4 linked regions of the Homo sapiens genome follow. The protein of the gene in region 4 purifies or fractionates together with the protein of the main gene of each other region. This does not show direct contact. Each region holds a gene or a part of one and is shown on either strand. Other genes may lie near its edges. The genes, in order: PLCD3, ZRANB2, MTMR1 and PIP4K2A.

Evidence for each region.
Region 1: the proteins of PIP4K2A (region 4) and PLCD3 purify together in Homo sapiens (co-immunoprecipitation; 3 studies listed by BioGRID and IntAct, with this or other methods). This does not show direct contact.
Region 2: the proteins of PIP4K2A (region 4) and ZRANB2 purify together in Homo sapiens (affinity purification with mass spectrometry; 4 studies listed by BioGRID and IntAct, with this or other methods). This does not show direct contact.
Region 3: the proteins of PIP4K2A (region 4) and MTMR1 purify together in Homo sapiens (co-immunoprecipitation; 3 studies listed by BioGRID and IntAct, with this or other methods). This does not show direct contact.

Annotation. Positions count from the first base shown.
Region 1 is NC_000017.11:45,108,513-45,115,533, forward strand, and holds the end of PLCD3 (1-phosphatidylinositol 4,5-bisphosphate phosphodiesterase delta-3), read right to left. Parts: exon of another isoform or gene 6,997-7,021; intron 6,979-6,996; coding exon 6,832-6,978; intron 6,733-6,831; coding exon 6,582-6,732; intron 5,990-6,581; coding exon of another isoform or gene 5,855-5,989; coding exon 5,738-5,854; intron 5,094-5,737; coding exon 4,927-5,093; intron 4,746-4,926; coding exon 4,610-4,745; intron 4,501-4,609; coding exon 4,351-4,500; intron 4,193-4,350; coding exon 4,104-4,192; 3' UTR 447-4,103; downstream 1-446. UniProt on the Homo sapiens protein: Hydrolyzes the phosphatidylinositol 4,5-bisphosphate (PIP2) to generate 2 second messenger molecules diacylglycerol (DAG) and inositol 1,4,5-trisphosphate (IP3).
Region 2 is NC_000001.11:71,078,022-71,085,978, reverse strand, and holds the start of ZRANB2 (zinc finger Ran-binding domain-containing protein 2), read left to right. Parts: upstream 1-4,943; 5' UTR 4,944-4,983; coding exon 4,984-5,039; intron 5,040-7,270; coding exon 7,271-7,323; intron 7,324-7,413; coding exon 7,414-7,522; intron 7,523-7,957. UniProt on the Homo sapiens protein: Splice factor required for alternative splicing of TRA2B/SFRS10 transcripts. Binds to ssRNA containing the consensus sequence 5'-AGGUAA-3'. May interfere with constitutive 5'-splice site selection.
Region 3 is NC_000023.11:150,689,414-150,696,401, reverse strand, and holds the start of MTMR1 (phosphatidylinositol-3-phosphate phosphatase MTMR1), read right to left. Parts: upstream 3,007-6,988; 5' UTR 2,872-3,006; coding exon 2,726-2,871; intron 1-2,725. UniProt on the Homo sapiens protein: Lipid phosphatase that specifically dephosphorylates the D-3 position of phosphatidylinositol 3-phosphate, generating phosphatidylinositol. Could also dephosphorylate phosphatidylinositol 3,5-bisphosphate to produce phosphatidylinositol 5-phosphate.
Region 4 is NC_000010.11:22,536,578-22,543,598, reverse strand, and holds part of PIP4K2A (phosphatidylinositol 5-phosphate 4-kinase type-2 alpha), read left to right. Parts: intron 1-1,551; coding exon 1,552-1,795; intron 1,796-3,524; coding exon 3,525-3,628; intron 3,629-6,317; coding exon 6,318-6,398; 3' UTR 6,399-7,021. UniProt on the Homo sapiens protein: Catalyzes the phosphorylation of phosphatidylinositol 5-phosphate (PtdIns5P) on the fourth hydroxyl of the myo-inositol ring, to form phosphatidylinositol 4,5-bisphosphate (PtdIns(4,5)P2). Has both ATP- and GTP-dependent kinase activities.

The sequences.
Region 1 (7,021 bases), on a different chromosome or scaffold from region 4:
TCCTGAATTCTTTCCCCAAAGACGACCAGCATTTAACCAACCTAAGGGCCCAAAGGCCTTGGACAACTGCATGGAGCTGCACTCTAGGAGAAGGAGGGGAACCAGATGTTAGATCAGGGGAGGGAGCAGGAGTGTCCCTCCCGTCAGTGCCTACCCACCTGTGAGGCAGCCTTCTGATGGCCTGGCCCACCTTCCCCAGAACCAGGGGAGGCCTGAGGCTTCAGTTTTACTCTGCTGCAAAATGAAGGCGGGCCTGCAAGCCGACTACACCTACGGAGGCTGTTGAGGACAATTTCATTCCATTAAATTAAAAAATACTGACTGGCTGGCAGGCAGGTGCCATGTCTGGGAACAGGGACGGGGGAGCTTCACCTTTTTGTCTTGGCTTTTCTTTGGGCTGTGGGGGGGCATCCATTTCCAGGGTCGGGGAGGAAATACCAAATGCATTGTTGTTCTGCTCAATACATCTCACTTGTTTCTAATAAAGAAAGCAGCTGAACAAAACCTTCTGTCCTGGTATTCCTGGTCAGCAGGTGGCAGTGGAAGAAATGGAGTGCTGGAGCCTAGGCTGGAGCCAGGACGACAGGGCTTGGACACAAAGTCCCTCAAGCCCACAGCACCAGGCCAGCTTCCAAAGGCCTTCCTTTAAGGCTGCCCTTCTTCCAGGGCAAACTTGGTGTTGTCAGACCCTTCCCACCCGCCAGAGACGAGCTGCTATTGACCCAGGTTCACTCCAAGTTAGAGCAGCAACTGGGCTCTCAGCCAGCACCTGAGCACCTCAGCACAGGAGCCGGCCCAGGCTTCCCTAGCTGGGCACAGAGCAGCCCCCTTGGTCCAGGTCAGCAGTGGCTCCTCTGGTGGAGGTGCAGGCCCCGTGCCTTCCCACTGTGCCCAGGTGCCACATCTCTCCTCCTGCACCACTGGCCGGGTGGTTCTTTGAGTCACTAGGGGTGCATTTTAACATGGCAAGTTGCTGGGCCCCAGTAGCTGTGTTTAAGACTTCCCATTCCCCCTCTTCTCATCCTCTGGAACTTACCCATTCCCTGACCCCCTGATCCTTTCAGGTCCATGACTGGTGCCTCCAAGCCCCTTTCCAGGGAAACTGAGAGGACACAGGACCTGCCTGACCCCTCTAAAGCCCCCCAACCCTCCTGTCCCAAACCAAGTCACTCAGGCTCCTATGGCCCATGCCTTTTTTCCTGCCCTTAGCTTTGGGCTGAGAGAACATAGCCCTATGTGTTGTTTCTACCCATGGGCCTCTGGGATAAAAAGCTGTGATTTCAGGCTGGGCATGGTGGCTCACGCCTGTAATCCCAGCACTTTGGGAGGGCGAGGCGGGTGGATCACGAGGTCAGGAGATCGAGACCATCCTGGCTAACACTATGAAACCCTGTCTCTACTAAAAACACAAAAAAATTAGCCGGGCATGGTGGTGGGCGCCTGTAGTCCCAGCTACTTGGGAAGCTGAGGCAGGAGAATGGTGTGAACCCGGGAGGCGGAGCTTGCAGTGAGCCAAGGTCGTGCCACTGCACTCTAGCCTAGGCGACAGAGCGAGACTCCATCTCAAAAAAACAAACAAAAAAAAAACCCTGTGATTTCTCCCTTGCTTCTGCTTCCCAGTTCACTTCCTTAAAGACTCTTGCCCTTTTGGCTGGGTGCAGTGGCTCACGCCTGTAATCCCAGCACTTTGGGAGGTCAAGGCGGGTGGATCACCTGAGGTCAGGAGTTCGAGACCAGCCTGGCCAACATGGTGAAACCCCGTCTCTACTAAAAATACAAAAATTAGCTGGGTATGGTGGCGGGCGCCTGTAATCCCAGCTACTCCGGAGGCTGAGGCAAGAGAATCGCTTGAACCCGGGAGGCAGAGGTTGCAGTGAGCCGAGATCACGCCATCGCACTCCATCCTGGGGGACGAGCAAGACTTTGTCTCAAAAGAAAAAAAAAAAAGACTCTTGCCCTTTCAAGGCAGCCTTCTCAGTATTGGGCCCTCATCCTAGCCTTCACCCCTTCCTCTTGGTACCAGATACGAAACCAGAGAAGCCAAGCAGGATGGGCACTCAGCCCTGGGTCTGGTGCTCACCTGACCCAGACCCCCCAGCCAGCCCCTGGCCAGACCTGGCTCTGCAGGGGCTGGGCAATGCTAATGGCTCTTCATTTGCTAAAACTGGACTTAGCCTCACTGTGCCTCCCATCCTGAGGCTGCAGTTTGGCAGCCTGACCCTCTGACAGCCCTGAGTGCCAGATGCCCGGGCTGCCTGGCCCGGCCCGCCTGGCTCGGCCCATTCCTTCTGGGCCCTTTTGATTCTGATTATCCTCTTTCAGACACACAAATTAACCAGAGCCAAACGCCACTCCCAGCATGAAGGAGCGGGGGACACTGCCACTTTCTGCATTAGTTCTTGGAGTTGCTAGAAGGTGGAGTCTGCCCCAGCCCTGTGTTTTGGTTTCTGTGGGGCTTGGGGCCAGTTCAAGGCCTATCCCAGCCCAGTTCCAGGCCACCCTCTGGGGACTAATGTCAAGTTCTGCCCTTGTCCAGTGCCGGCACTGTTGGCTGGCAGAACCTAAAACACCAGGCCTCCACATTTCACCCTGCTGGCAGGGGCGGGTGCAGGATTTTCTCCAGATTCTGTCGCCTAGTGTCCAGTGCGCTCTCCTGGCATTTCTATAGAGGCGGCCCAAGCAGCGTTTCCAGCCTTTGTGTAAAAGGCTGGCTGGCTGGAGGAAGGGAAGCCCGTGTCCTTGGGATTTGCCCTACTGAGCAGACAGGGGCCTTGAGCCCAGCCAAGCCTGGAGAGTGGCAGTCTGAGGGTCCCTCAGACTCCTGTCTCCTCCTCATTCAAGGCCCCTCTGTGTATGTGTGAGTGTGTGTGTGTGTGTGTGTGTGTGTGTGTTGTGGGGAGGCGCTGACCTGCTGAATTGGCATCCTCAGACAGTCTTGTGATACTCGCAGCAGCTTTAAGCCAGGAGCAGGGATCGGGCTATTTAGAGCTGTGGCATCTCCTGCTGCCACCCCCTGGCTGTCTTAGCCAAGTCCATGCCCTGTTGAGGGGAGAGGCCCAAGAAACTCATCCAGCCCTGTCCCTCCTCATGGGCCTGTGGGGGTGGCAGCATAGAGGTGCTCAGGGAGTGGCGGTGGTGAAATCAACGTGCTTCTTTATTTTTTAAACTAGATAGGCTCATTCTACTGTCTTCTCCAGGGCTCTTCTATGAAACAGTTACAAACCTACGGCCAGGCCAGGCAGTGGCTCACACCTGTAATCCCAGCACTTTGGAATGCTGGGGCAGGAGGATCACTTGAGGTCAGGAGCTCGAGACCAGCCTGGGCAACATAGGGAGACCCCCGCCCCCCCCGCCATCTCTACATAAAATTTAAACATTAGCCAGGTTTGGTGGCCTGTGCCTGTAGTCCCAGCTACTCAGGAGGCTGAGATGGGAGGATCGCTTGAGCCTGGGAGTTCAAAGCTGCAGTGAGCCATGATTGCAACATTGCACTCCAGCCTGGGCGACGGAGCGAGACCCTGTCTCAAAAAATAAAAACCAAAACCTACTGCCAGTTTCCCCAGGGCTTCATGCCTCAGCGCTCCCTTCTTGCTTTGAGAAGGGAAGGGGAGCTCAGGTTCCGGAGCTGGAGGGAGGAGTCCAGGAAGGCCTGGGGTAAAGGAGGGCTTAGGGGCTAAGCTCGGGGTCGGGGCCAAGTGGAGTGACTGCGCTCCTCTGGGGGAAGGAGGCTGGGATGGCCCACGGGAGGACAGAGGGGAACTGAGGGCCCACAAGTGTCCTGCTCCCCAAGTCTCCTGGCAGCAACAGGCTTGCTCCTCATAAGTCACAATGAGGGGTGGGCTGAGGACAAGAGGAGCTGGGGCCATCTCAGGGCCCCAGGGTTGGAGCTCACTGAAGTCACATGAACACCTTTCTGTTCTTCAGGAGGGGCCCAGGCAGCCCTCAGCACCCAGGTGAGACCAGCGCCTGGTGAATGGGCTGAGTGGGCCAAGTGGGTGGGCTGGGGGGCTGGTACTCCCACCACCTGACTCCAGAGGAGGAGAGGGCTCTGCAGGGGATGTGGACTGGCACTCGCAGAACCCCAAGGCGAGTGAGGTGGGCCCTCAGGAGCGCTGGATGCGGATTTGGATGAAGAGCGTGGCTGGTGACAGTGAGGCCCCGTCCTTGGAAAGCAGGTGTATGTGGCGGTACCCTGTAGGGAGGACAGCCAGGCCTCAGGTCCTCTGTGCACCCTGGGGGTCTGGCCCAGCCCGGGCCTGCTTCAGGGCAGGAAATTCGAGGCACAAAGGTGAACAGGGTCTGCAGGACCTGGACCCACATCCCTCTCCATCCCCACCAGCCTCCACCAACCTTGCTTTAGGCTGCTAAGAGGCAGTGTAAACTGGCCCACAAAGTCATTGGGGGAGGTGGCGTCATAATCTTCCACCACAAACCGGACCAGTGCCAGCTCCGGAGCCCGCAGCTGGAACTGCAGGGTCTGCCCCCAGCGGGGGTTGAAGCCTAGGGCACAGGGATGGCAGTCAGAGCCCAGGGGCCCCAGGACCCACCCTGCACCACCCTTCGCTCTCTGCAGTCTCCCCCAACCCCACTTCCGCCAGTGGCTGCCCACCATTGTTGAGCACGTAGTCAGTCTCCTGCCGGGCACAGTCTGCGGGCACCCCATGGATCTCAATGCGCACCAGGGGGTCCACAATGGAGTGTGGCTTCTCGGCATTCAGCTTGGGCAGCTGCTGTGCAGTCAGCACCTGTGGGTGAGGGAGGGAGTGGCTGGGGCCCACGCCCACCTTGGCCATCCCCTCATGGGCCTCAAGCTCACACCACCCTCACTTCCAAATGTCCCCAGCCTCCCTTGCCTTCCTCCACCTCACAAAGAGCCTTTCTAGAACCAGTCTGACCCCACACTGGGGCCCGTTCCAGCCTGCTGACCTGGATGCTGAGAGTGGTTCTGGGAGGTCCTGGGTACTCGGGGTCAAAGGTCGAGTCAGGTTGCCGCAGGCAGGCAGGTTTTAGGACGTAGCCACACTGCCCATTGACTAGGAAGCGCCCGGCATTGAGGTCCATCTCGTAGCCTGGCGTCTGGAAGTTCAAGGCCACTGTGGACACAGCAGGGTCAGAGCAGGGGCTCTTAGCGGCCCTGTTCTCACTACTCAGTTTCAGGGGACTGCATTCCTCTCTACAAAGGGCCTGGGGTCCCACTGTCTGCTTAGTGCTGCTCTGCTCCCACCATGACTTTAGGGGAGGGGGTCATGGACCCAGCCCCCACTGTCACCTGTACTTCTGCCCTGGGATCCCTCAAGACTGGGGTGGGAGGTACTAAAAAAGCCCCCACCCTCAGGGCCAGGCTTGGGTCAGAGCCAGGGGTCTGAGGAAGCCTGGGGTTTCCATCCTTACCCCAAGGAGACGATACAGCCCTCCTTTGGTGGGGCTCAGCGTCCCCCAGAGCCCACCCTTGTCAGTGTTGACTTAGTGGGACTGCCAGGTGTGTGGGGGTTGTGTGTGTCCGGGGGACATGGGAGTGGAGATTTTAATTTCTACCATGATAAAAATGCGAGACCTGTACACTGTCAAGAACAAACGAGCCTGATTTGATTTTCCCACCTACATTGCTGGCAACTTTAAAAATAATCAACAAAATGCGTGTTTCCACCGTCTGGAAGGCTGTGTGGGCCCCTCACTGCTGAGGCCTCCCCCACACTGTGGCACCCCGCCTGCTCTCATTCCTGTGGCCCCCACTTACCCAGCTGACAGCCCGAGTTCCACATCTCCTGGGGACTGTAGTTGGCTGAGTTCATCCGCAGCCCCAGCGGGTACACGCGGGTCAGCTGGCGGGCATTGTGCCTGACAAAGCTGTTCCCTGGGGCAGAGTTGGGGTGAGACCGTGACAGACTCCGGGGGTCCCTCACCCAAAGCCCCGGCCTGTAACCTCCAGGGAACAGAGCCCAAGCCCGTCCCCAGGTCACCCTGCCCCCGCTCCTCACTCTCTTCTGACCTAGAGTGAGAGGGGAGCTCACTGAGGAGGCTGCAGGGACCCCCTCCAGCCACACAGCCTGGCCCTGCATCCCCAGCCCCCAATTCCCAGCTCCTGACAAAGTTCCAACCAAGTACACTGAATGCCCACGGCCCTCCAGCTCCACTGTGGTTCCTGGAATTCTTCTCCAGGCCAAGGCCCCAGGCCTTCAACAACCTGTTCCTCCTGTCTGGAAAGCGCTCTCCCCTCTTCACCTGGCTGCTTCCTAGTCCTCCAGGTGATGTGTCCTCTCAGCATCACCTGCCCCAGGAATTCCTCCCCAGTGTTGCAGCAGCTGCTGGGCTCCCCCAGCCCCCAGCCCAGCCTGACCCATCACCCTCTATGGCCGGCCCCACCACAGGGCTCTGAAGGCAGACAGCAGGCCGCCCTCAGCGTGCCACTCCCCTCCATCCACCCTGGCATGTGCGGGGCCCTCATTCCCTCAGCCCAGCCCCTCTTTGGGGTCCTCTTGACCTCTTTACTGTCCCCCAAAGCCCCCTCAACTCCTTTCCAGACTCCCTTCAGGAGGTCTCTCACCCTCTCGCCCCCAGACACCCAGTGCCCCAGCTCCTACCTGCCTCCCGAATGAGTTTCTTGGCTTTGCGCTCGCTGAGGGAGCTGACCTGGCAGGGTTGTGGGGCGTTGGGGGCAGGGTGCAGGGTCCGCAGGCGGGTGGCGTGGCAGTACACAGCCAGGGCCGACAGCTCCGGGGAGATCTGCTTGGCCTAGGAGACCAGGCTCAGCGGGGTTCAGCTGGCCCCCGCTTCCCACATCCGTCCTCCCACCTTCCCCCCCTTCCCCACCCCACCCATCCCAGCTCTCACCAGCCGCCTCTGCGCTGCAGCCTCCACCTCCTCTTCTTCCTCCTCGTCATCCTCCTCCTCCTCCTCCCGATCCGACAGAGCCCGGCCATCCTCGCTCCGAGCAGCGGGCAACTTCTTTCCCTTCACCAGGACCCGGCCCTTCAGCTGCTGTGGGGGCCAACGTGGAGGATGAAGGGTTAGGCCTTCTCGC
Region 2 (7,957 bases), on a different chromosome or scaffold from region 4:
TCTCCACTAGAGGTGGTTCCTTGGTCTGACCAGTCAGGGAAGAGCCCACATACTGGCTCACACAGTCAGCTCCAGACCAAGGATGCATGGGGGGACAGTGGTAGCCCAGAGCACTGAACTCATCCTGTGTCTGATATTAGTGAAAATCACCCTCAAACCACTGAAAAAGCATCATTCTGGTGGCCCAAACTTGTGCGATGAAAGAAATAATGCCATGAAAGAAATAATGCCCCAGCCAGTGGGAGCTTTGGCCCTCCAAGTTGCTCTCCAGGAACTGGCAGGGCCATCTGGCCCTAAGCCACCCTACAGGTGCTAGTACCAGAGATCCTGCTGCACTGGTGGACCCTGAGCATGTTAAGAGGGCAATATGGTCAGGAGGGCCTGAAGGGAAGAAACAAAGAAGCCAATAACATTTTCTTTAGGCTTAGGACTGTCCCACCCAACAGGTCCTGCTGACCTGGCTGGTCCCCACCACCAAAAGCAATAGAACATCTCAGGACTTCCACTGTCCAGGACCCACATAGTACTACATTTTGGCTCCATCCTGCTGAATGGTCCAAGACACTCGAGGGGAATTAGGGCACCTCAAGGAAGGCCAGGTGCAGGACCAGGCTAGGAGCCCTGGTTGCCCAGGTCTAAGGGCAGTATTGCTTTTTTTTTTTTTTTCAGTCTTCTGAACTAGGTAACAGAAAAGCTAGTCTGAGGAAAGAATAACGCATATGCAGAACAAATTCAGCAAAGAGACAGAGAAAGGGTGCTGCTTGAATAGAGGATAGTTTCTTTTAGGATATTTCTGAAACTGCATTCCTGCTCTGGCATTCCATCAAACACCACCTTCTCTTTATAATATGCTCCCCCTTTTTGTTGTTTAAGTCATTTTATTTTTATTTTTGTTACTTGCAAGCAGAGTGAGCCCTAATGCAATATTTAGAGCCAGATTCTTAGCTTTGTAGGTTCAGAAACTCAACTTTACCATTTCCACCAGAGCTAATCTCCTGGGGACCAACATATTAAGAGGACCCATAAACAACTGATATGCATTTCAGAGTGCCAATTTCTCAATCTATAAAGAGAGCTTAATCCAGATGAACAACTTGTGTGGATAAATTCACTCTGGGAATTTCACCACAGTAGGTTAAGTGTGCTCAGGAGAGAAGACAAATTATCAGAGGGCTGTTTGGTGAGCATATAATAAGAATAAAGAGAATGGGTAGAATTTTTCTTTCAAATTAGGATAGCTGAAATGAATTTCTTTTGTAGGAATATTTCTCTTTGAAAAATCAGCTAAAGTCCTTGAACTCAAATAACCTCTTCTGGTCATTATCAGATGTATTCACGCATTTTGTTCATTATCCTAGACTTACTATAGAGGATTTTTCTCTTGACACATAATTCTCCCAGAAAAATTTTGCTAATTACAGTTAGTACAGTTGATTAACTGTTGTTGCATTAACTGCATGTCATCTACCAGCTTTGGCATCTATTATTCCTATTGACCCCATGAAGTCACTATCTCCTCTCTACTCCCAAGGGTGATCACTATCCAAGATTAGTTTGGCTGCTTTTGAACTTCATGTAAATGGAGTCATATAGCATATGCCATTTTGTGTCTTGCTTTTTTCAATTCAAGACTGTATTTGTGAGTGAAATACTGTTCAATAATCTGAGTGTAATTTGTTATTCTTGCTACTGTATTACACATTCCAACTGTGTAAACATATGACAATTTATTTATCTAGGCTACCACTGATAAGCAATTGGGAAGCTTCCAGTTTGGGCTATTTTGAATAGTACAGCTCTGAACATTACTATATACATCTTCAGTGAACATTATGTGCATTCCTGTTGGTAATATACCTAAAAATGGAATTTCAGGGTCATAGTGTACGAAAATGTTCAGATTTAATATATTCCGACATTTTCCAAAGTAGATGTATCAATTACTTTTTGCAATGTATGAGAATTACAGTTGCTCTACATGCTTTCCAACACTTAGTATTCTCTGATTTTTCATTTTAGTCAGTTTGATGAATGCATAATGGTATCATATGGTTTTAATTTGCATTCCCCTGACTTGCAGTACCAACCAAGACATAGAAAGCCCACAATAACCTATCTTTCCTAATGATTACAGTGAGAAACTCAAGACAAAATACCAAAAGCAACTGCCTGAAGACTCTGGAAAAACAAAAACAAAAACAGGTAAATTGGAGTGGAGAATGAAAACCTGGAGAAATGTTCTGTATGTTTGCTTTTCCTCTTTTCTCACAGCTTTTGACCTAAGGCCCAACACCTAGTGAAACTGTGGTGACAGGAAAAACCGACAGAAACCTGTATGTCTTGCCAGAATGGGGATAGGGGGCTTTTGTGAGCCAAAAGTTAGTCGGGGGAATACTTAGCTCCCCCTCTTCTGGTTTTTCTTTCTTTTTTTTAATTTCTCTCTCTCTCTCTCTCTCTCTCTCTCTCTCTGGGCATTGGCCCAAGAGTGAGGCCCTAGGCTTGGGTATCTACAATACTAACAGAAGCTCTGTTTTTATGGACAAAGGAAGTAGAAAAGGAGGCCTTTGTGGTCTGAAGAGTGTAGAGGGAATCCACATTTTTTCTCTCTCTTTTCTGTCACTGCTTTGTCTCAGAATCTGCCCTAGTCAGCTGCTATGCCAGGCTGCTAAAACTCCAAGAGGAACCTCATATTTCTGGTGAGAGGACCTTGCGAGACAAAAGGAGAAGAATGTAAGAGGAGAGAGCTAGAGAAGAGGATCCCCTAATTCTATGTATGAACCTATACAAGTTCTGTGTTCACACCTAAACTGAACACGTGCAGAACAAACACAAAATAGCATAGCAAAACTGAATTTCAATTTAAACTACTGCTAACATCCCCAAATAATCCCTGAGTATTGTAGGTATAGGACACAGCAAAGCCTTTGAAAACCCAGCTGACATGGAACCAGTACTCATAGAAGATGAGACCGAACTTTTGACCTGAACCAAATTGGATCGATTGCCTTCTAAAACAAAAAAAAATCAACATTCCCTAAAGGCTTTTAACAGGACTCAGTCTATGCAACATAATGTTCAAAATGTCCTAGATAAAATCCACAATTACACAGTATAAAAGAACTGGAAAAATGTGACCAACTTGCAAGGGAAAATATAATCAACACCTGCTAACTCCTAGATGACCAAAATGTTATAATACAGATTTTAAAGCAACAATCATAACTAGAGAGTAGTTGAACAATTTCTCTCCTAAACATAATCATACTTGCATAAAGACATTTCAGTCAATGATGAACCACATATACAAAGGTGGTCCCATAAGATTACAATACCATATTTTTACTGTACCTTTATATTTAGATACACAAATACCACTGCGTTACAACTGCCTACAGTATTTAGTACAATAAGATGTACTAAATGCAGGTTTGTAGTCTAGGAGCAATAGGCTATACCATATAGCCTAGGTGTGTAGTAGGCTATACCTGCTAGGCCTGTGTAAGCACATTCTATGATGTTCACACAACAGCACAATTGCCGAAAGTGGCATTTCTCAGAACATATCCCTATCATTAAGTGAGGCATGACTGTATATGCTGTATTCTAAAAAAAATTAATGCATTTATATACCAGAATCTATGCATAAGAATGCTCATACTGGTGTTGTTTGTAATACCAAGCCTGAGAAACAGAAGGAATAAACTGTCACAAAACCACAAAACGGAATAGTATCAGTATACATCAGTGCAAATAAAAGAATTACACCTATACACTTCTACATGCAACTACCTAGGATTAATTTAGAAGCATAATGAACAAAAAAAGAGTACAGAATCAACTATGCTTACACAGCTCATAAAATTAAACATACATGTATGTTAGGTTTTGAAGGGAAGGCAAGGATTAAAGAAAGAGAGGGTGGCTTAACAACAAATACAGGATTTATGTCCAGCATAAGACCTACAGAGGTGGGAGACCAGCTTAATGCCAGTGCCCGTTGCTTCTTACAGGCTGGGGTGATTTATAGGCCTGGGTGGGAGTGGTCTGGGGGGCCATGGCCTGCTTCCTGGGAACATGTTGATAAGGTGTTCCCAGGACGAGGCGGCTCTGGCCCTTGTTCCAGTGGAATGTGGTACTTTCTCCCAGCAGAGTATAAGAGGCAGCCTGTTTCTCACGCCCGAACCCCGTGGAATGTTTCACTTTGACTAAGGTCTGCAAAATGGCAGGGGGGCTTACAAAAATGGTGCAGTTTGGACTAACAACGTACATAAATTTTTAAAAAGCAAAAGAATAAATCCCAAATATGGGAAAGTGTTATCTGTGGAAGAAAGTAATGGGATGGTATCAGAAAAGACACTGGTAATTTAAACAGTGTTGACAATGTCTCAGTTTTAAAATTACCAGCTGGTTCCCATGTATAAGTTGCTTACTTATCTGTTACACCTATTTATGTATATATAAAAATAGGTTTCCAAACGACATCCCATGTGTATGAAATAACAGAATTTTTATGCCTTATTAAAATAATTTCTCTAAACACTTGAAGAGCCCGAGCCGCCTCTTACCCTAAACGAACCCCACGCCCCTGAATTGATCAGTCACTTCCGCCTCCACCTTTCCAGCTCCACCTAAGGAAGCGGAAGTACTTTACTCTTGGGTCCTCCCACCTGTAGGGGGCTCTCCGAGGCTTCTAGTGCCACGAAGGCCTCCTGCCTGGGTTGTCCTTATGGCGCCTGTGAGTTTAGTTCTAGAAAAGATATTTGTATTTTAACTTTTCCATCTAACAAACAGTAGCACAGGCATCTTAGTCTGGACAACAACGTACAAGCTGAATTCCTGGCTAGTTCCCTCATTATCAAACCCTGACACAGTAGTAGGCGCGAGTCAGGCAGTGTGGGGACAGCCCCGAGTTGCCGAAAGTCCCCGGCCCGTTTTCCTCCTGTGAAGACATAGCTGCGGGTGGCTGTGCTGGTGGCGTTCAAGATGTCGACCAAGAATTTCCGAGTCAGTGACGGGGACTGGATTTGCCCTGACAAAAAGTGAGTTCAAGAAGGGTCCTGAATTGGGACGGAGTTTGTTAGTGGAAGCTTTCCGAGGTCCGTCCGGCATTTTCCTTTTTTATGATTTTCTGTGCCTTAAGACGGGTTGAGGCGGCGAACCGCCAGTTCCCTGGCGGGAAGAAGGCTCCCAATCTCCTCACGAGAGAGGTCTTTCCGGGAGCCTTTGTTCTAGATATGTCTTCAGCGTTTCCTCGACATTACCTCCGCAAGGTAGCCTCTCTTTTTAGAGTGCGAGATGGCCTACCTTTTTGCCCCCACCCCCCTCCCCCGCCCCGGCCAGGTTTTAGCGATAGGAAACCTCTCCAGTCAGGCCAGCTTGGTGTTGGATCTCCCCCACGTGACTTTTCTCTGCAGAACTTTACTCTTGTTCACGGAAAATATTGCTTTCTCGCACTCGTCCTTTTGCCTCTTATAGTTCACCTTGTTTTGTATTTTTACTCAAACTTTTCCTCCATACTATTTTCCCCTTTTCCGGAAGCTCTACCCTCTTCGGTTTGGGAAATTCTGACATTTTCTTTGTGGATCATTTCTCCACAAGAATTGGGCTTTTCGCCTCCTTAGAGCCGAAAAGGAGGGAAGAGGCCTGTGTTTTTGCCTACTCAGCCCTTAAGATGCCTGCAGCAGAGAAGCACGTGTGTTAGTGGCTCTGCTTTTTGACATTGTTGCCAAAGCCAGTACTCGACTAGATAGTTAATCAGATTTTTTTTGAAGGGTGCACAAATAGGTGTATCTATTCGGAAATAACATGGAAAATAATTTAATGTACAACTCATGTTCACATAAAAGCCTTTTATTTGTTGTACCTAAGTTAGCCACAAATAGGTTTTGATTGTAAAAAGCAAAAACTTTGAAATAAACCTGGGTTTAGTTAAAATTCTATTACTTATTTAACTGCTAAAAAAGGAATAGAATTTTTTTTTTAATGAAAACATGAAATAACATGGATAGGGTGTGTAAACAGTGACGTGTAGCAAATTCTAATTGGTGGCTATTGATAGTAATTTGATATTAAGATGACCTGAAGGAGTAGTTCAAGCCTAACAAATGATACTGAATAGAACCAAAGTTATATGTTATGGATAGTATTGCTCTGAGTGGTAAGACATTATTGAAAACGTTCAAAAGATTTAGAACAACAACTTCTGACTTTGTTGTTACCTGTAAAATAATGTGCTTTTGTCAGTGTCTTTAATGACAGCACACCCAGAGGTAGGACTCTCAATGAGAGTTCATTTCAACTCATTTACAAATATATGAATAGAATGTTGTTTGTACAATATGTTTAAATGCAGGATAAATTTTCAGAGTATATTTTCCATGCTTAATGGAGTTAAAAGGAATATTTTTAGGGGAAAAACTTAACCTAAATATTATTTAGAGTGTTTCACTTTAGTGTCATCCCATACTTCACATCTGTATTGTATTCTAGTATAATGCCTTAAAAATCAGCTTTTTAAAGTTTAAGCATTCCATGTTATCCAGAGCATTTAACATACTTTTACCAATATACACGTACACTTCTAAGGTCATGTGAGTGAACCAGTAATTCTTTAGGTTTGAGTTTGTTGAGTATAAGCATAAAGTCTTACTGTACTACATGTGTTGAGATTATTGGTTTTGGTGGTTGTGTCATTTTTTTCAGCGAAGTCTCAGAGGTTTGAGAAATGCCCTGTAAAACTCAGTTTTCTTACAATTATTGAATCTTTTTGTATTTTTAGTCAGTACAACCTATCATATTTGGTTCCTTAGCATCCTACCTACTGCATGTAAAAAGATAATTTCATTAAGATCCATGAAGCCCTCCTTGATTTATAAGTTTTTTTCCTCATTGGTCCACCGCTAGGGTTTAAAACTCCCTGGTAGCTTGTAAGTAATTAGTGAAGTGGAGTTAACTCTCACTTTCAACTTTGTAAAGGGATTATAACTAATGATATGTGCTAATGTGAGGACTTGAGGCAGAGATCCTAAGTAACTTAATCAAGATCACATGACTGGTAAATGGAGGATTGGGATATCTTATTCTGAATTTGTGGCTCCAATCAAGTATTTTTCCCCCAGTAAATTGTGTGGAGTTTTTTGTTGGTAACATTGACATTAACATGACTAAGATGGATTAGAAGTTATGAATTCCAGATATGTAGTGAGGACAAGTTAAAATGTAAAATTTTACAAATTTAAATTTTTATAAATGCTTTTTAATCTGTTTTTAGATGTGGAAATGTAAACTTTGCTAGAAGAACCAGCTGTAATCGATGTGGTCGGGGTAAGTATTTAAAGAAGATTCTATTTATACTGTATATGTATCATTTATTTATTTCTCCAGGTTCATATTGCATGATTTTTCTGTTTTCAGAGAAAACAACTGAGGCCAAGATGATGAAAGCTGGGGGCACTGAAATAGGAAAGACACTTGCAGAAAAGAGCCGAGGCCTATTTAGTGCTAATGACTGGCAATGTAAAACGTATGTTTTTTAAATTATTGTCTGCTCTTTCTTCCAAAATAATAGATCTGGCCACTACTTGTTTATATTACAGCTCTTATTAGTGACATTGACAAGCCAGGGTAACCTTTTAAATCCAAGGTATTGTTATTCAGTCTCATCTTTAAGTATAGTATAAAGAAGTTTTAAATTATTCTTTGCATTTTTTAATGGTAATAGTTGTCACTATGATGGATTATGTATACCAGTAAACAAATGCTTATGGTAAGCTCAAAACCAATCGGGGGGTGGTGGTACTTAAAAGTACTAAGGCCTATTACTTCCTTTATTGAAAAATCCCAATTTTTAGACTGTATAGTTAGTGTGAAATACACCACAAAACTCATTTTGCCTGTTTACAAAATAATGTTAGATTCATAAGTTGTGTGCCGTAAGTAATTAAGTCTAATTATAGGT
Region 3 (6,988 bases), on a different chromosome or scaffold from region 4:
ATTCAGAAGAGAAGTGAAGGCCCCATAGTCCCAGGGACATGGCCAAGTCCCACCCATAGAGCCAGGTTCCATTCTAGAGGTCACTCTTCAAAGAAAAGTGTGAATCTGAGCTTGTTGAGCTGACAGAACTGAGAAAGGAGGCCATGATTCCTCCCCCATCCCTTCTCTGTAGTCTGTGCAATTGCCCTCTATACTCCTGGTGTCAATAACTACTTACAGGCTGGAGGCTCCCAGCTCTGTTTCTCCAACCTGGACTCTCCTGATCTCAATGCTGATGTTCCTACAAGACCTGTCCACTAGTCTGGCCCAGAGACCCTGCCAATTCAACCTGTCTAAACCAGCATCAGCCGCTCAGCCCCGCAACCTACTCTGCTCCTGTGTTTCCTAACTCAGGGCGCAGCACAGCCAGTTATCCGGCCCCCACACGCTAGAAAGCTGAGGTTTGCCTTGGAGTCCACCCGGCACTCCCCCCTCACATCTGAATGCTCACCATGTCGGGTCACTCTTACCTGGTAAGCATCTTGAAAATCCACCCAGCCCTATTCCTAGCCCAATTCCCTTTTCCAGACCTCCATCATTCTTCTGTGAACTCCACCTGCCTCATGAATTTAAGCCTCATCTATAAGCCCATGACTCCCCAGTTTGAATCTCCAGCCCAGACAACCCTGAACTCCAGGCTCAGATAGATCAACTATATCTTTGACATCTATTCTGGGACATATAATTGGCATCTCAAAATTGATATGTCCAGAGCGAAGAGCCTGCTATTTTCTAACCCTGCTCCACCTTAGAAAGACTTCTCCATCTCAGCAACACAATTTTCCCACAAGCTAAAATTTTGGAATTCTCCCAGATTCTTCTCTCATACCAACCAACCAATCTTCAGCAAACCCCATTGGCTCTACCCTGCAGGTCTTCAAATTACATGTAGTATCTGACCACTTCTCCCCTCCTCCGCTCCACTCTGGACCACCATCTCACTTGGCTTACTACAATAGCCTCCTACTGACAGTCTCTGCTTCAGCTCCTTCCCCTTTCACTCTATTGTCCACATAGCACCATGGAGAGCCTACTGAAATCTACAACAGATGATGTCACTCCTCTGCACAAAGTCCCCAGTGGCTCCCCATGGCCTCTGAGGCTCTCCACCATCTGGCTCTGTGACTTCTCTAACGTCATCCCTTACTTGTCTCTCCCTAGCTCCCTCCCTGCTAGTGACACCTAGTCTCCTCGCTGATCTAGGAACACTTGGCTCACATTCACCTCAGGGGCTTTGCACAGGCCTCTGACTAGAATACTATCACCCCCAGGTATCTGTATGGCTGGATCCCTCGCCTCTTTGGGGGCATTACTCAAATGTCAGCTTTCTCAGGCTTTCCCTGATCATCAAAATCTCTGAAGGAAACCAGAAGATGAGGCATATTTGGGGGTGACACATTCTGGTCTCCTTTGGCTTCTTAAATGATTCTGATGCATGCCCATCCTGAGTACTTCTGTGTTCGCCTCTACCACCTATCTCATTTATCACATTCGATTTCCACTGTTGGTTGGTTTGTATTCTCCACTAGATGGTAAGTCTAGCAAAATGGTAAGGCAGCAAAAGCCGTGTTGTGCTATTCTCTGAATCGCCCAGACCTCGTGTGTGGTTGAATATTTGCAGATGAGTGAAGTCCTCACCATTTCAAGTGCTGTCTTAGCTGTGACTGGTTTTCAGTGACACTAACCACTTGGGTGATTAATTTATTAAAATATATTGTAATTACACTGAGGTAGAAACAAAAGTGAAGGGAATGTTTCTTGTTTCTGTGCTTTTGGAAACTCCCAAAAGTTTGGCACAATGGGATGACCAAGACAGGCAGGAATGGGCATGTAAAACTGACTGAGCTACATTCCAACAGTGCATGCTGCCTGAGTGCACTCTGGTGTCAGGGAAATGGCCAAGTTGTGGGAAAACTGGATGTTCCGGGTTACACGATAGGCCATCTCTTGTCGTCGGAGGAGGCGGTGGCCCCTCCCAGTTCGACACGGTCACTTTATGTTTCTAACTGATTTCTCTTAGTTCTGCAGCTGCCTCAGAAGCAGTAGGCTTGCTTGTGTGTTCATGAAAACAATAAACTGGTTCCCTCAAAGTGTGAAGAACTGAAAGTAAATGGTTCTGTTTTCTTGCCTCCTGAGCAGTTTGGACGTTTTCCATCTCAGATTTTTGCCTCGATCTGCACCAGCTCCCACGCCCGCGGGGTCCCATCTCCCCGTCCTCACTCCCAACCCCCCATCAAAGACCCTAAGCAGCCACAGCAGAATTGGGGTCTTAAAACCACACGAGGCAAGGTGATGCTAGAAGAGGAGAGCCCGGGTGGGATCTCCCTCCCAAGAGGATTGGTGGCCTGGGCAGGGACAGCCAAGCGATCGCCAAGGGCAGCAGGTGGCGGCGCCGGAAGTGGTTTGACAGCTGCGAAGCCCCTCCCGGGGTTCCAGGAGCTGGGGCTCTCGGGGCGGAAGTGAGCCAGGTGCGCGGCCCGCAGCAGGTCCGAGGGCAGCAGTCCCCGGATGGGGCGCTGAGGTTTCCGGGGGTGGGGGGGAGGAGGGCCCAGAGGGGATGAAGAGGGGCCGCCCACCCCGCCACCGCCAGGCCCTGCGCAGCGCGCGGGGAGGGGGCGGGCTGGCCTCGCGCGGGGCCCTCGGGAGTCGGGGCGCGGGAGGCCGGGGCAGCCCGGGCCCCGCTTACCTGTCCAGGGTCTCCACGCTGGGCTGCCGGGAGCCGGCGGTGGCGCCCCCCGCGGCCCGAGGAGGCCTCCTGCCGCCCGCCGGCCCCGGGTTCGGGCCCCCGCCGCCCTCGCAGCCCGCCGCCGCCGCCGCCGCCGGCCTGTCCATGGCGCGCCGAGTCCTGCCGCCTTGGGGAAGCCGCCGTCGGGACGGGAGCGGCGGCCGGGAAGGTTTCGCTGCTTGCCTCCTGCCGCCCGCTCTATACCGCCCGCCCGCCTCAGGCGGCCGCCGCCATTAGCTGTCACCTGGCGGCCCCGCGTTACCCACAAGGCCGCGCGCGCGGGGGTCGGGGGGCGGGAGCGGGGGCGGGGAGGGCGGCGCGCGGGGCCGGCGCCGGGAACCCCCACCTCGCCCAGCCCCACCTGGGCGCTCGCCCACGGAGCCTTACAGCGGGGATCTGGGACCTCCTGCTCCAGCGACCTGGGTGCGTACAGAGCCACTGGGGTTCGGAATCCCCAAACGGATTATGCGTAGCGTGCTTCACTCTATAGTCACACCGGGTTGACTGCAGAGACGTGGGGTGTAAAAAGAAGTTTGAAGACATTCAAGTATCAAAAATGATTTCCCACCTCAGTTGTCCTTCCCGGAAAAGGTATAGAACAGCTCAAGCTCCCTCGGTCTTGACATCTTGAAGCAGGAGCAATTCCGTGCATTTTAGCAATTCCTCCCCACCCCATTCTTCCCTCCACTCTCCCCCTCCATACGCACCCCGCCGCCCCGCCACAAACCCACCCCCTTGCCATCTGTAGGGCAACCAAGTGTTCTGATGCCGCCCTCGGAGCTTCCGCCCATGGTTTATGTTAAGAGTAACATTTAACTTCTGTTGATTAAAAAATCACTGCTATGAACATCAAGCCAATATCTTGGTGAGGCATTTAGGACATTTGCTTTCTGGGCTAGATTTATTTCCTTGCTCATTTTGTTTGGGTTCGAATATCCAACAGCTCATCCCCTCTCACCTCACCCCTGATTAAGTTGGGAGTGGGTGTGTGGCTCGTGATTAAGCCTCTTTGCCTGTGATTGCTCTGGGTGTAGACAGGAGGCCTGCGACCCAGGTCTGGAAAAGAAGATATAAAGGGAACAATTTGCTCACTGTTAAAAGGCAGATCTGCAGACAGGGAGTTACTCATGCCCATCCCAGACCCATCCTGCCCCACCAGCTTAATAACTTCAAACTGAACTTTGAGGATATGATGCCTGAAGCCCCGACAGCCATCTTACGCACAAGAGGAGGTGAGCCTGGGGTAAGAAGATGACAGAGTGAGGAGGGCTAGGAGGAAGGAAAGGAAGATCCCCAGACAATAATAGCTCCTATCTCACACTGGAGAATCACCGACTGCAGGTTGCTGGCTTTCTAAAATTATTAAATCAAATGGTTAACCCACTGTTATGGACTGAATGTTTTCATCCCCCTGAAGTCCATATGTTGAAGCCCTAATTCCCTGTGTGATGGTATTTGGAGATGGGGTCTTTGAGAGGCAATTAGGTCATGAGGGCCAAGCTCTAGTCTGATGGAACTGGTGCTTTTTAAGAAGGGTCACCAGAGAGCTTGATCTCATGCACTCACATGCACACACTGAGAAAAGGCCGTGTGAGTACACAGCAAGAAGGTGGCCATCTGCAAGCCAGGAACAGAGCCCTTACTAGGTCCCTGCTGGACACTTAATCTTGGACTTTCCAGCCTCCAGAGTTGTGAGAAAATTTCTGTTGTTTAAGCCACCCAGTCTATGGTATTTTGTTTTGGCAGCCTAAGCACACTAAGACACCCACTTTTAGTTGGGTATTTTGTTACAAGTAGCTGCAAGCATCTTAGCTGTGCTGAGAATTGTCAGAAAGAAAACAGTGCAACTTTAAGCATATTTTAAGTACCATATTCTTTAAGAAACATTAGGCCAAAGAGGAATTCACTGTGACACTGTCATACTTCCAATTCAGTTAAGTACACTTAGGATTTAGAGGACAGAGATGAATCTGACATATCCCTGCCTAAGATGTTCACAATCCAGTGAAGGGGACAGACAAATTAACAATGACATTACAAGTTGGCAAGTGCTATAATGGGGACAATTGCACAGGATGTGGAACACCTACCCCAATCCATAGGAGAAGAGGAGGTCAGGAAAACTTCCCCAAAAAGGTGACATAAAACTGAATCTTTAAAGATGAGTAAATCCTTGATGAGGCAAAGGAGTCAAGTTATTCCAGGCAGAAGGCACAGTTATGGGCAAAGGTGTGGATTAGTAGGTATATTAATCTGTTTTGCTTTGCTGTAAAGGAATACCAGAGACCTGGTAATTTATAAAGAAAAGAAGTTTATTTTGGCTCACAGTTCTGCAGACCGTACAAGAAGCATTGTGCTGGCATCTGCTTCTGGTAAGGGCCTCAGCAAGCTTACAATCATGGTGGAAGGCGAAGAGGAAACAGGCATGTCAAATGGTGAGAGAAGGAGCAAGTGAAAGGTGAGGGAGGCACCAGACTCTTTCAAACGACCAGCTCTTGCATGAACTCATAGAACGAGGATTCACTCATTACCACGGGGAGGGCACAAAGCCTTTCCTGAGGGGTCCACCTTCAGGATGTTCACAATCCAGTTTGCAACCCAGACACCCCTTACTCAGCCCCAACTCCAACATTAGGGCTCACATTTCAACATGAGATTTGGACGGCACAAACATCCAAACTCTATCTGTAGGTTAAATAGCTTATTATGTGCAAGAGAATGCCAAGAAATCGAGTGTTACTGGAGCATAAAGTCAGACAAGATAAGTGAGGATCTGGACTGGTGGTAGGCCAAGAAGTTTGGGCTTTGTTCTGCAGCTCACCAGATCTCAAATGTTAGTGTGCAAGAATCAGCCCCAGTCTGCATTTTCAGCAAATGCTCCCATGATTCTGATGCGGGGCTTGCTGCACTTGGAGAAATACTATTGTATAGTCCCCCATCTACGTCCATTTGATAGATTGTGCTTCCAAAGACTGCTGCAATAATATCCCCCATCCCACACACTCTTTTGCAAGGTGATCTTACCACTCATACATCAAGAGGTGGATTCTGTTTACCTTCTCCTTGAATGTGGACTGGCCCTGTAACCCCTTTGACCAATAGAATGTAGCAGAGGTGATGCTGTATAATTTCCAAGGCTAACCCTTAAGGGATTTGCAACTTCCAGTTTGCTTTCTGTGCATACTCCTTCTTGGAAGTCAGCTGCCATACTCTGAGGAAGCCCAAGCAGCCACAGGGAGAGGCCCATATGGAAGAGAACCAAAGCTCTCAGCCAATAGCCCTAGCTGAGTTCCCCAGGCAGCATGGCCAGAAGCCAGCACTAACTGCCAGCTATGTGAGTGAGGCCATTTCAAGCCTTTCAGTCATTCTGGTGGCCTAGCCAACACCACATGAAGCTGATGAATCATACAATTGACTCACAGATTTTTGAAAACTAATGAATTATGGTTTTAAGCCACTAGGTTTTGGGGTGATTTTTTGTGCAGCAATAGAGCACCCAAGCATTGCTCTTGATGAATGATCCAGAGAAGTAATCCCCTACCTGCTCAGCTCCCTTCCCCATTCAGCTATAGGAATCCATGCACAAATCACAGCCACACTCCAAGGAGGGTACTCCACAGTAGTAGGTCAGAAGCTGTTATAATCTAAGATTTTACCCTACTAGCAAGCTGAAAATTTAGTTGATCACCACACTCTAACACTCTGAGAGAAAATATAAAGCCTCTGGATCCGAAACAAAGACAGTTTATTATTCACAGCAAAATCAGCAGCCACAGCAATATCTTGGATCTGCATCCTGAACCCCAGTCTCTACAGGGTGGCATGCTGTTCTGCAGTGCAACCTTGCCACTCTTACATTAAGAGGTGGTATCGGCTGGGCGTGGTGGCTCACGCCTGTAATCCTAGCACTTTGGGAGGCCGAGGTGGGCAGATCACCTGAGGTCAGGAGTTCAAGACCAGCCTGGCCAACGTGGCGAAAGCCCATCTCTACTAAAAATACAAAAATTAGCCGGGCGTGGTGGCACATGCCTATAATCCCAGCTACTTGGGAGGCTGAGGTAGGAGAATCGCTTGAACCCAGGAGGCAGAGGTTGCAGTGAGCTGAGATCCTGCCACTGCACTCCAGCCTGGGCGACAGTGCGAGACTCCGTCTCAAACAAAACGAAACAAAACAAAACAAAAACAGGTGGTACCTATTTCCCCTCCTTTTGAATGGGGGCTGGC
Region 4 (7,021 bases):
AAAGTCAGTTCTCATGTTTACTGTAATGGGGGAGTTTGGGGAAAGACCAGGGGGGATGAGCAGTGGCTTCCCCTCTTCTCTGGGACCCAGAAAGCTGAACGCAGGAGCCCCATGCTGTTTCCACGAGGGGTTTGCCTCTATTTTTAAACAAACAGGTTTCTCCCACTTTGCTTAAATATTTGAGTGTAAGATTTGTGTGATTTCTCTTTTTTGAGCTCAAAACAATTGGGGAAGATATAGCTGGCCCTGGGGGATTCCTGTTGGGAAGGCAGCGAAGTGGGAGCTCTGGCCAGTTTGCTGGGCTGAGCGGGGTGCTGGCTGATGGAGAATTGCAGGCACCAGGAACCAGCTGGAGAGTGGGATAGCCCTGTGCCCAGGGGTCCTCTCCTCGTCTGTAAGGAATCGGGGCTTCTCATTCAGTTTCGAGACAGAACTCCTTCCCAGCAGGCTGAGGAGAAATGACTCTGCGGGGCTTAGCAAATTGATTTCATTTTTAGCCAGAACTTCAAGACCTGTGATTTTATCTGTTTGCCCTTTGCATGAGGACATCTGCTTCCTAAATTCTATCAGCATAGCCCAGAGGCTGCTCAGCCACTCTGCATTCCCCAGCGAGGTGGCACTGAGTCCTTCCAGAGCCAGGACCGTGAACCTTCCTGGACCCTGAGCCCAAGGTCGGAGTGGAACAGGATCCTGTGCAGAGCCAGCCAGCCACGGGGTCAGGGAGCCAGTTGGGTCCAGCCCGCAGATGGGCTGCCACTGTTTGCACTCAGCACAACCATCCACATCTTATGGCAACATTGGAACGTTGTGCTGAAGGTCTCAAATAAGAAAAGGGAAACAAAGAGAAATCGTGATCTGAAAAGTCAAAGAACTGGGCAGACAGGAGTAGCCAAACACACAGAGCTGGGTCTTGCCCCCACATTATGTTCTAGCCACGGCTGGAGGAGGAGAGGGAGGACAGGAATCCTGGATGTGTGGTGCTTCGTGGAAAGCACACGTGGAAAGCACCTTGTTGACCTGGACAGGACTGCATTACTCACCAGATGTGGACACAGTGCCTTTACTTTTACTTATTTACAACAGCGTAACAATCGCCTCCACAGAGCATGCTGAATTCCAGGGTGCTTTCCTGAACTACCACCAGAGACTCCGCTGGAAGCTACTTGGGAGATGCCTGGGTTTCCCCATTAGCCAGTCTTAATCATTGGGAGGAACTTGCTCTCTCTCCCAGTCTCTCTCCGCATCTCTTACTGGTCATGCTCCTTGCTATCTGGTGAAATCCAGCCACCCTGTGATAGATACACACCTCTCCGCATCCAGTGTGGCATTCCAGGGTAAACAGCCTGAGCTCTGAGCCAGCCTGAAGTGTGAGGCTACATTTTAGATAGAGAAACAGCCCAGGAGTGTAAGAGCATCGTGAAGGAGGCACCCGGCGCCTCTGCTGCCCCACCCCACAGCCTTCCCTCTGGGTGTCACCCGAGCTTGTCTCCTTTAAATGTTGGCTTTTATGTTTAAGGTGTGGCTGACTCACCCTGTTGCCTCTGTCCCCAGTTTCTGGCCCAGCTGAAGCTCATGGACTACAGTCTGCTGGTGGGAATTCATGATGTGGAGAGAGCCGAACAGGAGGAAGTGGAGTGTGAGGAGAACGATGGGGAGGAGGAGGGCGAGAGCGATGGCACCCACCCGGTGGGAACCCCCCCAGATAGCCCCGGGAATACACTGAACAGCTCACCACCCCTGGCTCCCGGGGAGTTCGATCCGAACATCGACGTCTATGGAATTAAGTGCCATGAAAGTAAGTTTGATTACTGTGGACCCTTTTTGCATGTGAAGTGGTTTGACTTTGGCCTTGTTATCTACCAGTAAGCACTACCCCAGTTATGAGGGTGCTGCCCGGCAGCACTCATCCTCCAAACTCCAAAGAAATGGATTTGGGGACAAGAGTATGTTAAAGCTAACCGTGATCTCAGTGCTGAAACATAAGGCGATCGGACCTTTGAATTCTGTGATGTTGAGGGAATACAGCAAAACCACGAACTATACTATACATGTACAACACACCTGTACATATGCACATACACACTGGCATACAACGTACGTGCACACACAACACAACATGCATGTACATATGCACACATACATGTTCACAAATAACATCAGAAATGCTTTAAAATATTAATACGTTTTTGCCTAGTTATCTTTTTTATCTAAGTCAAAAGCATCATGAGTCTAAGCTAGGCACATGCATGTGATCCTCTGTGACCCTTAGCTTGTCCTCTTGTCATTACCAACAGCCCTCTCCCTCTCAGGGGTGTGAAGGGTGTGTGAAGATGGGCCCTGTGGGTGGGGTGGGAATCTGATTTGCTGCTGAGTCTGGCTCTGCTGTCCTCCCCCATGGAAGGGCCTATGGCCCTCTTCCCTAGAGTCAGATAAATCTTAATCCACCGTATCCAGGTGATTGGGTGCACCAGTTATTTGAATATTACATCCTACCTTAGCAACTTATCCGTGACAATACCAAAATATTTTTGTGATAGGATAAAAACAGCTTCTTGGTTTTTGAATAATAAAAACTGTGGCTCATCAGTTGTTTTTTAATCTCAAATGGCATATCAGCTGAGGATCTGAGTTCTGTTTTGTTCTGTTTTGCTCACCAAAATGTTTTCTTCAACACAGAAAATTAGATAGTCAAATGTACTTTTCTTACTGTTCATATTTTTGGAAATGGATAGAAAACAGACACGGGCCGGGCGCAGTGGTTCATGCCTGTAATCCCAGCACTTTGGGAGGCCGCGGCAGGCAGATCACCTGAGGTCATGAGTTTGAGACCAGCCTGACCTACATGGAGAAACCCCATCTCTACTAAAAATATGAAATTAGCTGGGCATAGTGATGCATGCCTGTAATCCCGGCTACTCGGCAGGCTGAGGCAGGAGTCACTTGAACTCGGGAGGTGGAGGTTGCTGTGAGCCAAGATCGCACCATTGCACTCCAGCCTGGGCAACAAGAACAAAACTCTGTCTCAAAAAAAGAAAATAGACATTGGAGTGGATGTATGCCTTTATCCAGTTCTGATACTGTATCCAGTGAGAATTATGAACAGTTCTACCATTTGATGTAAAGGATTAGTGTACATAATTAGTTCTGTTTTATAGGGTATTTTTAAATAGCATATTTCTTCACACCAAAGCAATACACAATTATTAAAGAAAATGCAAATTAAAAAAAAAAAAAGACTCCGTTCCACCGTTGGATCTCCACTGTTGATACCCTGGTGTGATGATGTTTTTAGTTGTTAGGGTTGTTTCTTTTTAAATTGCAGGGGGACTGGGTCAGAGAGGCAAGCTGTGTGTTTAGTCAGGATCCGCAGGGGTGGTGTAGAGTTTGTCTCTGGACTCCTTCCATCCGCGTTCCATTGAATCCCCTCCCTCCAGGCTCACTTCTCCCTCCCTCCCTCCCTCAGCAGCAATGCTGGCACTGGTGTTGTCACATGTCCCACAGTCATTGCTCTCCTGTCTCTGCAGACTCGCCTAGGAAGGAGGTGTACTTCATGGCAATTATTGACATCCTTACTCATTATGATGCAAAAAAGAAAGCTGCCCATGCTGCAAAAACTGTTAAACATGGCGTGAGTATCTCCATTTTGTTTCCTTCTCTCTTTCTCTCCCTCTCTCTCTCTCTCTCTCCCTCTCTCTCTCTCTCTCTCTCTCTCCTGGCTCCTCTGTGTGACCTGTAACTCAGGGATCACTCCTTTCTGCCACTGAGCTGCTTTCTACTGAGCCATTCAAAGCCCTTTAGTGACGCTTGTTCCCTGGGGGCAAGTCATGTTCTGAGCGTAAGATACAGAACCCACAAACGCTTACTGCTCACTGCTGCTCTTACCACAGCTCCCTGTGGCTTCCAGCGAAGTCACTTAAACATGAACATCTCTTCTTTTTACACATGGCGGACACTAACAGGCATGCGCATCACTAGGATGTTACACAAATTCTTTTTTGTTTGAAAAATGTTCCAGAGATAAAAGTGCAAAAGAAGATAATGAAGTGTTCTAATATGAAATATTCAAAACTGAAGCATGATTGTCTGCTTAAGACACTTCCCAAGTATACAGGATTAATATTTCTTTTCTCACAGTGAGTTGTATTTTTTCTACTACAGAAATCTCTTGAGTGCAAAATCAAAGTTGCATAATATTACTCACCGTTAATGTTGCTTGATGGGAGTTTTCACTGCTCTAGCCATATGTTAAGCTATTTTATCCCCCATGAGAAGCCTATGAAAGAGATAGTAGTGTACCTGCTTTTGTCAGTTGGAGAAACTGAGGAAAATAGCTTCAGGAGTAACTTGCCAGGGCCTCATAGTAGCAAGTGGCAGAGATGAGATTCCTCCCCCGGACCCAGCCCCCTCCTGGCTCTGTGTTCATGCTCATCCCCTTGCCCTGCCTGCAAACACCTCCTGCCTGGCTGAACTTTACAGCTCGCCAAGTTTCAGGCTTGTATTGCAGGGTGCCATCTTTGTTTTGCAGAGGTCCTGAAAGCCATAGAGCCCACCCCACACAGATGAATGTATTCCCTGGTTTGTTGGCCCTGGAAGAAGAGGTGCTTCCCACAGACTGTGTAGAACTAATGAAGATTCACCAGAACCAAAAACTCACTTGAAACCTCTTCTTTTCTATTTTAAAATAGAAATCAGCCTAACAAACACAGTATTCTATTTGCCAAAGAAATATTTCAGTCACATTGTCGATAGCTATGGTATTCCTGCTGTGTGCAGAGCACAGACTGGGACCTCACCGCCCCCGAGCACGTCAGTAAGCAAGTGTGCCTGGTGGCTTCCCCCCAACAGAAATTTTTGAGTACTCTTTTTAAACAAACATCCGCACCAGGTGCACCACCCCCATTCCGTCATTTCTGAGGCCAGTTCAGGAGGGTGAGGGAGGGGTCTTCAGAAGACTCCATGGTCATTCTGATGCTCACCTCTGGTTGAAAACCATGGAGTGTGGCAAAGAGAGAACTGGCGAGGAATCCTCGTTTGACCCTTCCCACTTGTATGACCTCAAGGGGACACTTTTGGAGCTCCTGTTTTTTCACCTCATACAGAAATCCTACTGCCTTGCTGATGGGGTTTTGCCAGAGATACAAGAGTTGTCTGGACAAATGCTTTGTAAATGTCTGTTCCCATATTATACATCCTGTGAAATTGGAGTGTATCCTAGCCAATATGGCTCCATGTTCATCTCTCCTATCCTAGCCAATATGGCTCCATGTTCATCTCCCCATAAGCCACAAGTTCGCCTCCATAGTGTGCCACACGGCATAAAATCACAGGTAGTTTGCAAGAAGAAAACATTACTGTCAGCAAAGGAACGCTGTGTTAAGCTGCTGTGGGGGACCATTCTCTCTGCATTCAAGCCTGGGCTCCTCCATGCAGCCGAGGCCTGGAAATATTACAAGTTCCCCGGTGAACATGGGTGTCTAAAAACAGCACATGCTCACTTAGCAAAACTCCGTGCTTGCCCTTTGCAGCTCAGGAAACTGGCCAGTGAGTGACTCCCTTGAGTGTGCTGGCCTGCACCCTGCATCTCATCATGGAAAAATCCCTCACCGTGCTTCTGCAGGGGGCCAGGCTTGCTTGCTCTCTGCAGGGCTCAGAAAGGGGAACAGTGGCACCCCTGTGTGCTGCTGCAGAGGGAAGTCAGCTCCTTCCCCCGTGGGCAAGATGGAGCCAGCAGTGTTGTGCCTCACCTGGTTACGGTGCAGGGAATGGGCTGGGGGCAGCTGTCCCAGAACCTGTGGCTGCTGCTGTTGCCCCTCATGTTTGAGCACTGAGCTGGGGGCCTCTGTCCAGAAACGAAGGGGTCCTGAAGAAATCATGCGGTTTTAAGTCATCGTCATTAAGGTTTCCCTTTCGCCAAATGTTGATGTCATTCTCAAGGTGGCTCCAGTCTGCCTTCTTGAAAAGTATAACATAAGTATTGTTTCCGTGACTTCTGAACAATTCCACTCTTTGATAGTAACATCCCAAACGTGGCCTGTTTGATTTTTTTGTGAGTTGCAACAGCCCCGGTGTGTGTGGTAGCATCTGGTGCTCCTGTCGCCCTTTGTCTCATTTGCAGACACAGATTTGTAAGAACCTTGCTTATTCAACCATGAGCGCCAAGATATTTTGAGTGATGTTTTTCAGAGCAGAGACTGCATGGATTTGAAAATTGCTTGCTGTATATTCAGTTGCCATTGGAAATAGCTGTAGATATTGAGTAATAATTTGGGGAAATCATAAACACTATGTCAATATTTCCTTTTTTAAAAACTGCCCAGGCTGGCGCGGAGATCTCCACCGTGAACCCAGAACAGTATTCAAAGCGCTTTTTGGACTTTATTGGCCACATCTTGACGTAACCTCCTGCGCAGCCTCGGACAGACATGAACATTGGATGGACAGAGGTGGCTTCGGTGTAGGAAAAATGAAAACCAAACTCAGTGAAGTACTCATCTTGCAGGAAGCAAACCTCCTTGTTTACATCTTCAGGCCAAGATGACTGATTTGGGGGCTACTCGCTTTACAGCTACCTGATTTTCCCAGCATCGTTCTAGCTATTTCTGACTTTGTGTATATGTGTGTGTGTGTGTGTTGGGGGGGGGTGAGTGTGTGCGCGCGTGTGCATTTTAAAAGTCATAAATTAATTAAAACAGATCCACTTCGGTCAGTATGTGTCCCAACAAAGACCCTTTGATTCCAGCTATGGCCGAATGAATGAGTGAGTGAGTGAGTGAGTGAATGAACACACGTGTGGGGGAGGGGAGAAGGAAGTGCATGATGTCAGGCACCGTGTTGGCATCACACAACAAACTGTGGATCAGTTTTTTTTTTTTTTTTTTTTTTTTGGAGTTGAAAGATGTGAGACAGTATTCAGAATAATGAAGATAATAATGATGATTATTATAATAATGATGATGATTCCAAGGAAAAAACCTACAGCGAATGTTCCATTTCTACCCCGCACGCAGACACTCTCCCTAAC